Linked DNA regions of Homo sapiens: region 1 is linked to region 2. Evidence: fine-mapped expression QTL. A gene starts in region 2. The other region holds a variant in brackets. All regions are shown on one strand. Distances are from middle to middle.

Region 1 (2,916 bases), 26 kb before region 2:
GTCTATTCTTTTTTTTTTTTTTTTTTTTTGAGACGGAGTCTCGCTCTGTCGCCCAGGCTGGAGTGCAGTGGCGGGATCTCGGCGCACTGCAAGCTCCGCCTCCCGGGTTCACGCCATTCTCCTGCCTCAGCCTCCCAAGTAGCTGGGACTACAGGCGCCCGCCACTACGCCCGGCTAATTTTTTGTATTTTTAGTAGAGACGGGGTTTCACCGTTTTAGCCGGGATGGTCTCGATCTCCTGACCTCGTGATCCGCCCGCCTCGGCCTCCCAAAGTGCTGGGATTACAGGCGTGAGCCACCGCGCCCGGCCTACTTCAGTGTCTATTCTTGCAAATCTATTTCCCTAGGCATCTGCAAACATACCTGTATCTACCAACACTTTAATTTACTTGTTTATTACAAAAGTGAGGCTATATTATACAAATAGTATCATAACTTCCCTCCCCCGCAGCCCACCACTAAATACTATATCTTGAACGATGTTTAATTCTGTACATATTTGGATATTTGGGTTGTTTCTATGTTTTTAAATACTTAAAACAGTAGGTAATGAAACATTTTGTTACAATTATTTTTTGTGCGTTTATAATCGCAGCTACTCAGGAGGCTGAGGTGGGAGGGGAGGACTGCTTGAGGCCAGGAGTTTAAGACCAACATAGCGAGACCCCATCCCTTAAAAAATTTTAATAATTAGGCACGGTGGCATGCAACTGTAGCCTCAGCTACTCAGGAAGCTGAGGTGAGAGGACTGCTCAAACCCAGGAGTTTGAGGCTACAGTGAGCTATGATCCCATCACCGCACTCCAGCTTGGGAGACAGAACAAGACCCTCTCTCTAAAAAAAATTACCCTGGGCACAGTGGCTCCCTCCTGTGATCCCCAGCACTTTGGGAGGCCGAGGCGGGCTTATCACTTGAGGTCAGGGGTTCGAGACCAGCCCAGCAAACATGGTGAAACCCATCTCTAGTAAAAATATAAAAAACAAAAACAAACAAACAAGAAAACTTAGCTGGGTGTTGTGGTGCACATCTGTAATCCCAGCTACTTGGGAGGCTGAAGCACAGGAAATCACTTGGACCCAGGAGGTGGAGATTGCAGTGAGCCAAGGTCACACCATTGCACTCCAGCCTGGGCAACAGTGCAAGACTCCGTGTCAAAAAAAAAAAAAAATTAAAAAGTTATTTTTTGTGAATATTTCTGCCACAAAGCACGTACATGACAATGTTAATAGATATTGCTATATCATTCCCTTAAAAAGATTTAATCAATTTCATTCTTACCAAGAGAATATAAAGATACATGAAACCCTGCTCTAATTCCAAAGCCTTGCTTGCTTCCTGAGTGTCCTGAAAATACAGATGAACAGTAAATCCACCTTAACGCAAATACCACTTATGTTGGAAATTGTGATCTTGACAGAAGTGACTGACAAGTAATTTACCATCTGTGCAAATTTATACTGTCAGCACAATTTAGGTAAGGGATCTAGAGGCCTAAAGGTAGATTCTCTGAAGGTGAGGACCACGTCTGTGCACTTGTCACCCCACGTCCTAATTTATTACCTGGCATAATATGAATGCTCAGTGAATATCTGTGGAACGGCCAGGTGCGGTGGCTCACGCCTGTAATCCCAGCACTTTGGGAGGCCGAGGTGGACAGATCACTTGAGGTCAGGAGTTTGAGACCGGCCTGACCAACATGGTGAAACCCTGTCTCTACTAAAAATAAAAAAAAAAAATTAGCTGGGCGTGGTGGCAGGCACCTATAATCCCAGCTACTCCAGAGGCTGAGGCGGGAAAATCGCTGGAACCCGAGAGGCGGAGGTTGCAGTGAGCCGAGATCATGCCATTCCACTCCAGTCTAGGAGATAAAGCAAGACTCTGT[CAAAAA/C]AAAAAAAAAAAAAAAAAAAAAGAGTATCTGTGGAATGAATGAATGGAATCACTCTCCCTAAAAAACAAAACATGTTCAATATTTCTATGGCGGAGACTTGGCCTTAATCTCTCATCCCTTAACTTCTATAAAATGGTGAGGGGCTCACAAATTGTGCCAAATATGTGACAAGACCCAGAATCTGCATTCTTCCTCCGTGACGTGGCTGCTTGTTTTTTTCTTTTTCAGCAACAAGGCTTTTTGCATTTGGGGGAACATGATGGCAGTCTTGGTGAGTAATTAAACTGGGACAGAATAAGACACTAATTTATTTCTGGTGAAATATCCTAAGACAAGTGTAAGAATTGCTCATGTGTCCATTACTTTTTCAGTTGCAAATTGGATCCAAACTGGCTTAAACAAAATTCCAAGAATAATTCTTGCTTTAGGCCTTGCCTAACGCAGGAACTCACAGTGTCACCAGAACCCGGTTTCTTTCAGTTCCGTTCTTACCCATGTTAGTTCCTTTTGCAATAGACTCTGCCTAATAAGTGCAAGACAGCTTTATCAACTTCTTATATCTTCTCAGAGTCAGTCTGGTGGGAAAGACTGAGGGACCCAGGATTCTCACGGTGTTTCATAGGATCTGACTGGGTGATGTCCCCGTCTATGAACCAATTGTTGTGGGTGCAAAAATGTGGCAGTTCCCTTGATCACATGATTTCATCTGTAGATGCAGGTGGTGCAACCATGAAGACCATAGGGACCAAGAGTAGGGAAGGGTGACTTCCTAAAGAAAATCTGGGGCTGATGCCAGGAGAGCGAATTCTGGGCAGGAAACAAACAAGCAAACCCATTTATTTTTGGGGGATAGCATTTACTGATGACTTCCAGTGATGGGAGTTCAAGGGAAGGATTATAGAAACTAAAAGGAAGAGGCAAAGAAGGCATGAGAAGCTATGGAATCTTGAAGGCAAGCTGGTCTTTCCCTTGTAGAGATGGGGCAGAGTGTGCCTGCGTTAACTTCTCTTTCCTGTGTCAAACCTAG
Region 2 (2,916 bases):
GGGTTGCAGTGCGTGGAGATTGCACCACTGCCCTCCAGCCTGGGTAAAAGAGTGAGACTCTGTAAAGTAAAAAAAAAAAAAAGAAGAAGAAGGAAGGAAGAAGAGAGAGAAAAATAAAAAAGAAGAGAATCAGATATATTTACACAGATGCAAAAGTGCCTAATCCACTGAAAAGCCCTCTCTGTAAGCTGTCATTATTATGAAGCTAGGAGAATGCCAAGAGCTGGGAGGTATCAAAAGTTTCAGGAGTGCCTTGTGAAAAGGAGGGGGCAGAAACTGATGTGAGTCCAGCTGCCAGGGTTGTGCGAGTGCGAATGTGTGTGTCTGGGGAAAAGGTGATAAGGAAATGACTCAAGTGATTTACAAGACAAGCAAACGTATGTCTTGTGAAGGGTGATCTATTTAGACTAACCTCAATTACTGACCAAGAACCTATTTGACCTGACCCATTTTCTACTTCATTCACACACCAGTCTTTGTTCTCTTCCTTGAAGTCAGGCCACACACTGCCTCTTCTGTTACCTGAACACCCCTATATTATTCCCATCTCAGGACCTTCTGCACCTGCCTGGCTCCTTATAATTCCGGTTTCTGTTCAAATGTTGCTTCTTCGGAGACGATTTCTCTTGACTATTCCATCTAAATAAAATAGCGTAACTCTTTCCTTCGAGTTCCCCCGATTTCTTCATTGCACCTTTCACTCTCTTAAAGTTATCTCATTTATGTGTTTACTTGTTTAAGGCTTGCCTCCCCCATTCCGATGTACACTCTGTAAACCAGGGACACTTTTGACCTTGTTCCTGGCTGTATGTAACCTTAGCGTCAGGCGCACAGAAACTATATACATATCTGCTGTCTTCTGTAAATATAAAACCTCAAGTCCGGAGATCCCTAGACACTGGGAGCGATCAAGGGCCGGGAGTGTGCCTTGTGGACGAATGAGGAAGTGGGAAGGCCGTCCTGAGAAGATCGGGGAACCCTGGGAAGGAAAAGTAGAAGTCCGAGCTCTCGGGAGGACCGAGGGGCGCGAACGTGGGGGTCTCACCTGCCGAATGGCCGCCAGCGTGTTCTCGGGCGCGTCGTGGCTGCCGCCACGGTGGGCGATGGCAGAAATGCGGTCCCGGGGCTTGAGCACCTGCAGGGCCCTGCAAGAGGGCACCGGCTCAAAGCTGAAGACGCGCAGTAGAACGAAGAGGCTGCCGGTGAGGAGGCAGGCATTGACCGGGCTCCGCGTCACCAGCAGCAGCACTAGCAGCAGGAAGGAGAAAGGGCCCAGGAGGCCGCCCTGGTCCTCCCACAGCCACATGCCGGCGCCCGCACCGGCACGGACGGGAGTCCCGGACCCGCCGGGCTCCTGGGGCAGTAGAACGAGAAGCGAGGGGGAGGGTCCAAGGCACCGGCAGCAGCAGGAACCCTCTGAGGGGACCAGCGCCGCACAATGGCGGCAGCAGACACATCCAGAGAGGGAGTCGGCCGCCCAGCCAATCAGGGATCGGGATTCGCAGCGCCAGTGGGCGGAGCCGCTCCATGGCAACGGGGGAGGGCCCAGGCCCCAGGCCCCAGGCTCACGTTCCAAATCTAAGGTGGGTTAGGGTTTTCCGAGGTCTGAACTTCAACCTGGGCGTTCAGACTCCTAGGCGAGAAAAGGAGGGATAAGAACCATCCTAAAGCTGTAGGACTGGAAGGGATTTTAGTGACTCCTTTATCTGCCCTTGAGGAAACTGAATTCCAGGGAACCTGGAGAGGCAGGATGCTTAGACTATCAATTCAATTCAATTCAATTCAGTTCAGTTCAGTTCAATTCAAGATGTGCCAAATACCGGTCCAGGTGCTCCGGACACAGTTGAACAGGACCTACAGGGTTTTTGCTCTTATGGGATTCACATTCTTGTGGGAGGAAATAAAAGTTAGCAAGTACACCTAACGTTTACAGAGCACTTACCATGTCCCAGGTACTTGACGAGCAAACACTTTATATGCTTATCTCATTCTCAATACAGCCTAACAGTTACTATCAGGAGACTGATTTCAATCGACTTTATTTTCCAGATTCTGGGGGACTGGAAGAGCCTAGCAAAGAAGGCACAATCGGATTATAAAACTGGAAGGGGTTTTAAGGATTCCCTTATTTCATAGATGCGGAAACTGAGGATAGGTGAATTAAGCAGTTAATGGCAGGGTGGGGACTGACATAAAGGCCTCCCCAGTGATTTGTGACATTTTCACTCCTCCTCCCCCTAATCTTACTTCTGCTAAGGGCTTTTGTACCAGGCACTGTACAGGAGTTACCTCAACTGTGCCTCACAACCACCCTTGTGATAGGCACTTTTAAAACCCCCATTTTACATATGCAAAAACAGGCACTGGAAGGAGGGTAAGAGAGATAGACCATGAAGCCGAGTTAGGGAGTGAAAAGGGGCCCCTGGACATATTTTGGAGGGCTGGTAACATTTTTATGTAGAGAACTTTGCAAAAATATTCAGGGATTTTTCTGTTACCTTTTTTTCCTTTAGTGCATTTTCCCACTGATTTGCAAAAGGGGATAGATGTCTTAAGCCTTCCAGTTGGCATCTAGGATTCAGCCTTTTTTTTTTTTTCTTTCAGACAGTCTCACTCTATCGCCCAGGTTGGAATGCAGTGGTGCAATCATGGCTCACTGCAACGTCGACCTCCTGGGCTCAAGCGATCTTCCGACCTCAGCCTCCCGAGTAGCTGGGATCACAGGCTCGCGCCACCCCACCCGGCTAACGTTTAAAATTTTTGTAGAGATGCCGTCTCCCTTTGTTGCCCAGGCTGATCTCGAACTCCTGGGCTCAAGCGATCCTTCCGCCTCGGCTTCCAAAATGTTGGAATTATAGGCGTAAGCCATCACGCCCGGTGGGTTCAGCAAGTTTTTACCTACAAGAAAATATTTTG

Direction of the effects. Positions count from the first base shown, and alleles are read on the strand shown. Sizes are in standard deviations (SD) of each study's normalised expression.
With allele CAAAAA in place of C in region 1, the expression in CD8 T cells of the gene that starts at base 1,440 in region 2 is higher (large effect, 1.0 SD a copy in CEDAR).

What was found. PIP is the estimated chance that this variant, and not a neighbour inherited with it, causes the effect.
Region 1: its variant is the best candidate, but not a certain one, in a credible set for the expression of GDE1 in CD8 T cells (CEDAR, PIP 0.86).

The regions. Positions count from the first base shown.
Region 1 is chr16:19,495,004-19,497,919 of GRCh38, forward strand. TMC5 (transmembrane channel like 5) reads left to right here. Exons shown (of 22, transcript NM_001261841.2): 21 at 2,118-2,160. Among named protein-coding and RNA genes, the nearest start is that of TMC5-AS1, 8.6 kb to the left of the region's middle. RefSeq lists a silencer at 1,507-1,718. The variant CAAAAA/C (reference allele first, on the strand shown) is at 1,884.
Region 2 is chr16:19,520,659-19,523,574 of GRCh38, forward strand. GDE1 (glycerophosphodiester phosphodiesterase 1) reads right to left here and starts at 1,440. Exons shown (of 6, transcript NM_016641.4): 1 at 1,046-1,440. The coding sequence starts at 1,306. RefSeq lists enhancers at 722-781, 907-1,641, 952-1,121 and a silencer at 1,232-1,401.